Regions from separate parts of the Homo sapiens genome. Here region 1 is linked to region 2. Evidence: fine-mapped expression QTL. A gene starts in region 2. The other region holds a variant in brackets. All regions are shown on one strand. Distances are between the middles of the regions.

The links. PIP is the estimated chance that this variant, and not a neighbour inherited with it, causes the effect.
Region 1: its variant is the best candidate, but not a certain one, in a credible set for the expression of SYS1 in monocytes after interferon gamma (Fairfax 2014, PIP 0.59).

Annotation. Positions count from the first base shown.
Region 1 is chr20:45,394,779-45,399,038 of GRCh38, forward strand. All of the region lies in intron 3 of SYS1-DBNDD2 (SYS1-DBNDD2 readthrough (NMD candidate)), which reads left to right. LOC107985404 (a long non-coding RNA gene) reads right to left here. Exons shown (of 5, transcript XR_007067608.1): 4 at 4,001-4,260. Among named protein-coding and RNA genes, the nearest start is that of DBNDD2, 11 kb to the right of the region's middle. The variant T/C (reference allele first, on the strand shown) is at 2,274.
Region 2 is chr20:45,361,239-45,365,498 of GRCh38, forward strand. SYS1 (SYS1 golgi trafficking protein) reads left to right here and starts at 1,918. Exons shown (of 4, transcript NM_033542.4): 1 at 1,918-2,077; 2 at 2,291-2,455. The coding sequence starts at 2,294. It overlaps SYS1-DBNDD2 (SYS1-DBNDD2 readthrough (NMD candidate)), which reads left to right and starts at 1,931. Exons shown (of 6, transcript NR_003189.2): 1 at 1,931-2,077; 2 at 2,291-2,455. It overlaps LOC124904914 (a long non-coding RNA gene), which reads right to left and starts at 2,130. Exons shown (of 2, transcript XR_007067609.1): 1 at 1,830-2,130; 2 at 1,118-1,588. RefSeq lists an enhancer at 1,648-2,087.

The sequences.
Region 1 (4,260 bases), 34 kb after region 2:
TCTCCTGCCCTCTGCCAGCGCCAGGCTGCCACCCCATGCAACAGGAAGCAGTGGCGGGGCCAGGCCAGCCCAGGAGCCACAGGCCGGAGCAGGGTGGCAGGACTGAAAGAGCAGTAACACAAATGGGCTGAAACTCCACCCCCTGAAATACAGCACCCCCACCTCGCTGAGCGGCTGCCGGTGATGAGAAAGAGAGAAGAGCTGCAGCCCTTCTGGGGGCCCAGATCTCGGGGCTCCCTGAGGCAGGGCTGTGACATGCTGTAACACCCTCTTTGGGGCTCTGCAGTTCCTGGTGTCTCAGAGCTTTCAGGTGCCACTGCGTTCCCCTGGTCCAGACGCTGGTGCCTATAGCAGAGGTCGCTTGGGGTAGGTCTGGTCCAGCCAGAGCCTTGCATGGAGCTGGTGCCTGTGCCAGTGCCTGGAGCTGCTCACGTGGCTGCGGCAGCTTGTGTGCCTGGCTCTGTGTGGTGACTGGACCTCACGCTTGCTCACACACCCCCCCACCACTCCATGCCTGGCTTACCCTTGGTAGGCATGGGATCCGGGCTGCACTAGCCAAGCACAGCCTGCCAGGTGAGTGGGCAGAACGAGTGGGCACAAGCAAAACTCCAGCAGAGGCACCACCAGCCACAGAGGTTTTGCACTGACCAAGTGACACCCAAAGGATCCCGTGACATAACCTTGGTACAGTGTAGGAGAGGACTGCCCGGATGTACATGATAGGTGGTAAGGAACATTGGGAGGTGTTTTGTGGCTGACTGTGGCCACAAAAATTTCCATTTTATTCCATCCAATATGTTTTTCTTTTTTTCTTTTTCCTTTTTTTTGTTTTAGAGTCTCGCTCCGTTGCCCAGGCTGGAGTACAATGGCGTGATCTCGGCTCACTGCAAACTCCGCCTCCCAAGTTCAAGTGATTCTCCTGCATCAGCCTCCCAAGTAGCTGGGATTACAGATGCATGCTACCATGTCTGGCTGATTTTGGTATTTTTAGTAGAGACGGGGTTTCACCATGTTGGCCAGGCTGGTCTCGAACTTCTGACCTCAAGTGATCCACCCATCTCAGCCTCCCAAAGTGTTGGAATTACAGGCATGAGCCACTGCACCTGGCTGTTTCTTCTTCTTTCTTTTTTCTTCTTCTCTCTTCTTTTTTCTTCGTCTTCCTCCTCCTCTTCTTCTTTCTTCTTCTTCTTCTTCGACTGAGTCTCGCTCTATCACCCAGGCTGGAATGCAGTGGCATGATCTAGGCTCACTGCAACCTCCGCCTCCTGGATTCAAGTGATTCTTGTGCCTCAGCCTCCCAAGTAGCTGGGATTAGAGGCACCCACCACCACGCCCAGCTAATTTTTGTATTTTTAGTAGAGACGGGGTTTCACCATGTTGGCCAGGCTGGTCTTGAACTCCTGACCTCAAGTGATCCGCCCGCCTCGGCCTCCCAAAGTGCTGAGATTACAGGCGTGAGCCACCACACCCGGCCTATTTTATTATTTTTTTGAGATGGGGTTTCACTCTGTTACCTGGGCTACAGTGCCGTGGTGTGATCTCGGTTCACTGCAGCCTTGACCTCCCAGGCTCAAGCGATTTTCTTGCCTCAGCCTCATGAGTAGCTGGGACTACAGGCATGCACCACCATGCCTGGCTAATTTTTGTATATTTTGTAGAGATGAAGTTTCTGCCAATGTTGCCCAGGCTGGTCTCAAACTTGTGGGCTCAAGCGATCCTCCCAGCTAGTCTCCCAAAATGCTGAGACTACAGGCATAAGCTCCTGTGCCTGGTTCAACACTTTTTTTTTTTTTTTTTTTTTTTTTGAGACAGGGTCTTGCTCAGTTGCCCAGGCTGGAGTGCGGTGGTGGCATCTCAGCTCACTGCAACCTCCACTTCCCAGGATCAAGTTATCCTCCTACCTCAGGCCTCCAAATAGCTGGGAATACAGGCATGAGCCACCATGCCCAGCTAATTTTTATATTTTTTGTAGAGACGAGGTTTTGTCATGTTGCCCAGGCTGGTCTCAAATTCAAGGTCAAGCGATCCACCTGCCTCAGCCTCCCAAAGTGCTAGGATTACAGGCCTGAGCCAGTGTACCCAGCCATGTATTTTCTAATATCCCTTGGACTTCATCTTTGACTCATGTTTTATTTTGAAGTATTGGGATTGTTTTTCAGTTATCTTTCTGTTATTATTTCTATTTAATTCTGTTATGGTCATACAACATAATTTAAATTCTTCTAAATTTGTTGAGGATTGTTTTTGTTGCCCAGAATATGATGAATCTCTCA[T/C]TGAATGTTGTATGTGCAGTTGAAAAGAATGTTTATTCTGCTGTTGGTGGGTAAAGTGTCATGAATATAATTAGGAGAAATTAATGATAGTGTTAAGGTTTTCTATATCCTTGCTTTTTTGGTGTACTTATTTTATTGATTATTGAGAGAGAAGGGTTGAATTATCTAGGTGCAATATAGATTTTTTCTGTTTCTTATTTCAGGTCTACTGGTTTTTACTTCATATATTTTTGAAGCTCTGTTGTTAGTATATACACTCTTATGACTGTTAAGTCTTCTTGGTGAATTGAACCTTTTATTATTAAATAATACCACTTTTCCTCCCTGGTAATAGTCCTTCTTAAATCTACTTTGTCTGATATTAATACTGTCACTCCAACTTGCTTGGTTTCATGTTTGTATGGTGTGTCTTACTCCATTCATTTTTTTTTTAGGGATCCAATTCCTCTACACATCCTTTTACTTTTAACCCATATATTTCTTTATATTTAAAGTGGGTCTTGTGGACAACATATTATTGCCTCTTACTTTGCTCCCAATCTGCTAATTTGTCTTTTAATTGATTGTCTTTTTACTGATACACTGGATTAAAATCTATCACCTTGTTATTTGTTTTCTAATCTTTCATCTGTGCTTTTTTTCTTTTTTCTTCCTTGATTTGGATTATGTTTCGAAAAGGAAAACTCCCAATCTCATGGGTGCTGCAAGTAGACAAGATGTATTGCATCTGATTGAAATAGTTTATTATTCATAGCACAACAAACAGTGTGAACATCAGCATAGTTGTATTGGTTCCCCTGGTCCTACATTCAACAGATGATGCAGTGAGCCCAGATGCATGGTATTCACACAGTGGGTTTGCATTGTAGCTGAGGGACCTAGGCCCAGCACTTTTTATTTTATTTTATTTTATTAATTAATTAATTTATTTGAGACAGGGTCTCACTGTGTTGCTTAGGCTGCTCTCGAATTCCTGGACTCAAGTGATCCTCCTGCCTCAGCCTCTCAAAGTGCTGGGATTACAAGCATGAGCCACCACGCCTGGTCCCAGGACATTTTTATAGCAAGCAGTAAGCAAGCCTGCCTTGGTCTGAGAAATGATCTCACCTCTCAAAACTCTAGCTGTACTAACAATCCTGAACAAGGACCCAGGTGAAAGAGAGGTCTGGGCCTTGTGATCTTGACATACTCAGCAAGACACGTTGGACACAAGTGGCCTAGGGAGGAAGCCTCCCAACATTAGAAAAAATTATTATATGTACTTGTTTTCATGTTCAACAGTCATTTTAAAAAATAAATTTTATTGTATATGTTTAAGGTATACAACATGATGTTATGGAATACATAGATATAGTAAAGTGATTACTATAGTGAAGCAAACGAACATATCCATCATCTCACATAGTTACCTATTCCAGCATTTTTATGATTCCATTTTCTATTATTGGCTTGTTACTTACACCTCTCTAAAAAAATTTTTTTAGTGGTTGCTATTGAATTTACTATATCTTTAATCAGTCTATCTTCAAATAATGTTATACCACTTCTTATATATCATAAGGACCCTTTAACAGCATATTTCCCATTCCTCCATCTCCTCATTTTTACTGTTGTTATTGTCATACATTTCACTTTTATATATGCTATGAGGCCACAATGCATTGCTTTAGTAAAGCAGTTACCTTTTAAAGTGAGTAAAAATGAGAAACAATGTCTCTTATATTTACCTTTATTCTATCTGTTTCCAGAGATCATCATTTCTTTATGTAGATCCAAGTTTCTCTCAGGTATCATATTTCTTCTGCTTACAGAACGTCCACTGGTAATGAATTTTCTCTCTCTCTTTTTTTTTTTTTGATCTGAAAAAGTGTATTTCCTTCATGTTTGAAAGATGTATTTGCTAGGTATAGAATTCTGGATTGGCAGTTTTTTGTCTTTCAGCATTTTAAAGATATGACTCTATTATCTTCTGGTTATATAATTTCTG
Region 2 (4,260 bases):
GTTGAGCTGGAAAGCACCTAAGAAATCTTTGGGCCTTAATAACTCCCCAACTGGAGTCCAGGGGAACTGTTCAGGGTATTTCCAAATGATAAGGACAATCGCACACTCTCAATAAAGTCTCAAGTTTCTTTACTTTTGTCTGGAATTGTATCAGCTCAAGGTGATAACACGGCTACCACAAGCTGTTCAGAAATTCTGATTGGCAGTTACATGGCTCTTTGATACGTTTTTTTTTTTTTTTTTTTGAGACGGAGTCTCGCTCTGTCGCCCAGGCTGGACTGCAGTGGCGCAATCTCGGCTCACTGCAAGCTTCGCCTCCCAGGTTCACGCCATTCTCCTGTCTCAGCCTCCCGAGTAGCTGGGACTACATGCGCCTGCCACCAGGCCCGGCTAATTTTCTGTATTTTTAATAGAGATGGGGTTTCACCATGTTAGCCAGGATGGTCTTGAACTCCTGACCTTGTGATCTGCCCGCCTCAGCCTCCCAAAGTGCTGGGATTACAGGCATGAGCCACTGTGCCCAGCCTAAGTTTTTTTTTTAATGAGAAAATAATTACTGGAAGGTAGATTAAATGGTGGAAAACGTTAATCATGTCCAACTCCTCATTTCATAAACAGGGAAGCTGAGGTTTAAAGAAGGAAGTGGCTTGCTGGTCACACTGGGTGGCATAGCTGGCCCTAAAACCCAAATTCTTTTCCTGGAACAACTTACTTCCCGTCTTTCCACTTCAGAGAGGGGGAACCTAGGATCAATGAAGTTGATGGGTTTTCGTCTGCTGGAGTAGGAATAAGTGAGTTATCGATTTGCTCTTGCTTTTTCTGTTCTTAACTCATTCAGCAAATATTTACTGACTGTCCACTATTCGGATTTGGAAGATAGATAAAACAGTCATGGCAGCAGAGAGGGTCAGGATTTACTCCTATGTGCGACTTCAGAACCTGTGCCTTTTTCCACTGGACACCCACATTTTAAAACACCCACTACTCTGCCTTCTAATATAGTTCATCTGTGTCTCAGGGCAGGGGCTGTCTTATATATACATGTTCTAGCCTTCCTGCCACCGAGTAGGTGCGAAATCAATGTTGTAGTGTTGAGGAAACACTTGAATTTTATTTATTTATTTATTTATTTATTTATTTATTTAGAGACGGAGTTTTGCTCTTGTTGCCCAGGCTGGAGTGCAATGGCGTGATCTCGGCTCACTGCAACCTCTGCCTCCCGGGTTCAAGCAATTCTCCTGGCTCAGCCTCCCGAGTAGCTAGGACTACAGGCGTGCGCCACCACGCCCCGCTAATTTTGTATTTTTAGCAGAGACGGGGTTTCTCCATGTTGGTCAGGCTGGTCTCGAAACACCGACCTCAGGTAATCCGCCCACCTCAGCCTCCCAAAGTGCTGGGATTACAGGCGTGAGCCACCGCGCCCGACCAACACTTGAATTTTAATACTTACTTTGCTACTAACTGTGTCGTTGAAACAGTATGTTGCTTTCCTTCTCTGGCCCTTAGCTTAACTATCTGTACAGCGGGAACATTGGCAAACTCCTACGTGGAGGAGCTTGCAGGTCCACTTCAAGTTATCAGACTCTAACTAGGAGAAAACATTGAGAATTTAGGCTGAAAATAACGACACAGTTTATCACCTCGTTAATTCCCAAACATCATTACCGCGTCCTAAGCCACCCCACTTGCCTCTCCCCTAGCCGCCTTCCTTTAAAAAAAGAATTCCCCTCTAGAGGGCGCGCAAGCTCTGCGGCCTTCGTTCCTCTCTTCCGTTTGCCTTCACTCTTCCTTCTGCGCATGTGCTCAGTTCGCTATCCGGCTGCTTGTACCTGGTTCAGGAGGTTCAGGCAGAGGTTGCACCCACTACGCCTGCGCAACCTCAGCCCCGCCCCTCCGCTGCTTTCCCCGGAAACGTTTCTTTCCTACGCAGCCGCTCCTGCCGCCGTGGTCGCTGGAGCTTTGCCTCTCTAGGCCGGCAGCGCCTCTCCTCCATGGTCCTGTCTGTCAGCGCTGTTTTGGGAGCCCGCCGGTGAGGCCGGGCCACGCTCAGACACTTCGATCGTCGAGTCTGTCACTGGTGAGTAGACCCCAGAGGAGCTCGTGTACGGGCGGGGGCCGCGCAGGCGGAATGGGCTGGATTTCCCCTCACTCTGAGAATGGGTCTGTCTGCCCCGCCTTCCCCCTGACTCTTGGAATGGGCTCACCCCTTGGTTCCAGTCCCTCCTCCCGGGCGGGGCGACGTTGCCATGGAGACAGGCCGCTGGCTGAGGCCCGGCTCGTGTCCCTGCAGGGCATGGCGGGTCAGTTCCGCAGCTACGTGTGGGACCCGCTGCTGATCCTGTCGCAGATCGTCCTCATGCAGACCGTGTATTACGGCTCGCTGGGCCTGTGGCTGGCGCTGGTGGACGGGCTAGTGCGAAGCAGCCCCTCGCTGGACCAGATGTTCGACGCCGAGGTAGGGTCCCCGGACTGGGGCGGGTGGGGTCTCGGCCTCCCCGAGTAGGCTTTGTGGTCCATCACTACTGTGCTGTAGACGTGGCTGGGTCACCTTCTTTCTTTGTAGCCCTGGGAAAGGGATTTCACCTTTCTGAGCCTCAGCTGCCTCATCCATAAAATGGAATGACAGCAGAGGCTGATTAGTACAAAGAAAAGGGCCTGGATGTTAATACAATAAACACGTCTGTGTTCCAGGCAACTCTGATACATTTCCTTTCTGATACTCTGGGAAAGTGACTTGATTTCTCTGAGCTAGGTTCTCAGGTGCCACATCGGAGAGAGGGGTGGATAAAAGAGCATTCGTGCGGGTACAGTGGAAACTGCCTGGACTTTGGGGTCAGACAGGCGTCCGTTTAAGATCCACTTACTAGCTGTGTGACCTGGGGCAAATGTCACCTCTGTGAACTTGTTTTCCTGTCTTCAAAACCATGAGACTAGTTGCAGAGAGGTCGTGGACTGCAATATAAAGAGCATGTGCTTTGGGTTCAGAAAAGCAAGGGTTCAGTCTAGGCCTAAACATATAAAACTAGCTGTGGGACCTTGGGCAAGTTGCTTCCCCTTTCTGAGCCTTTTCTGAAAAGTGGGCCGGATGCTCCTACCATGTTGCCCTCAACAAAATGTTACAAGGCCCAGAGGGGTTTAGGAATAAGAAGGTACTTTGTAAAGTGTAAAGGAGGCCTATAAGTTGTTACATCTAAGAGGCAGCTGTGGCGTGGTGATGAGCACAGTTCTTTTTTTTTTTTTTTTTTTTTTTTGAGACGGAGTCTCCCTCTGTCGCCCAGGCTGGAGTGCAGTGGCAGGATCTCGGCTCACTGCAAGCTCCGCCTCCCGGGTTCACGCCATTCTCCTGCCTCAGCCTCCCAAGTAGCTGGGACTACAGGCGCCCGCCACTACGCCCGGCTAATTTTTTGTATTTTTAGTAGAGACGGGGTTTCACCGTTTTAGCCGGGATGGTCTCGATCTCCTGACCTCGTGATCCGCCTGCCTCGGCCTCCCAAAGTGCTGGGATTACAGGCGTGAGCCACCGCGCCCGGCCGAGCACAGTTCTTAAAGCCAGGAGACCTGGGATGGAGTCCTTGCTCCTGCTGCTTGTTCTCTGTGTTAGCCCTTGGGCAAGTTATTATCCAAAAAGTGATAAGAATTAAAAGAAGAAGAATGGCTTTGTGAGGTTTTTTTAGGGATAATATGAGATTATGTATGTCAAAGACCTTTCTTTGTCAGCTGAAAGTGTGGTGCAGATGTTTGGCATTTGATAGTATTGTGTTGGATAGTGGAGGTTGCACACCCACCATATGCCTAGTTGTAGTCTCGTAGGAGACTCTATGCTCCTGGGAAGAGCTGTGGGAATGCCAGGCTTTGTTGAAGAGCCATATGATGCACACAACCTGAGTTCTAGCCTAGGGATCAGCAAACCTTTCCTTTAAGGGTGAAGTAGTAAGGATTTTAGGTCACAATTATTCAGCTCTGCCATTGTAGCACAGAAGGCTGCTATAGACAAATATATAAGTGAATAGGTGTGGCTGTGTTTCAATAAAACCTTATGTACAGGAGCAGATGCCAGGCCTATGGAGCCATAGTCAGCTGAACGCTGTTCTAGACTTTACTCTTGTTGTTTATTACTTTGGGCAACTTAACTTGTCTGAGTTTTTACGTCCTCCTTTGTAAAATGAGAATAATCCCTTTCCACCTGCTGTGAGAAACAAATGAAATCCCATAATGGATGTCTATGAAAGCACCTATTGGAAATAGGCTGCCGTACAGATG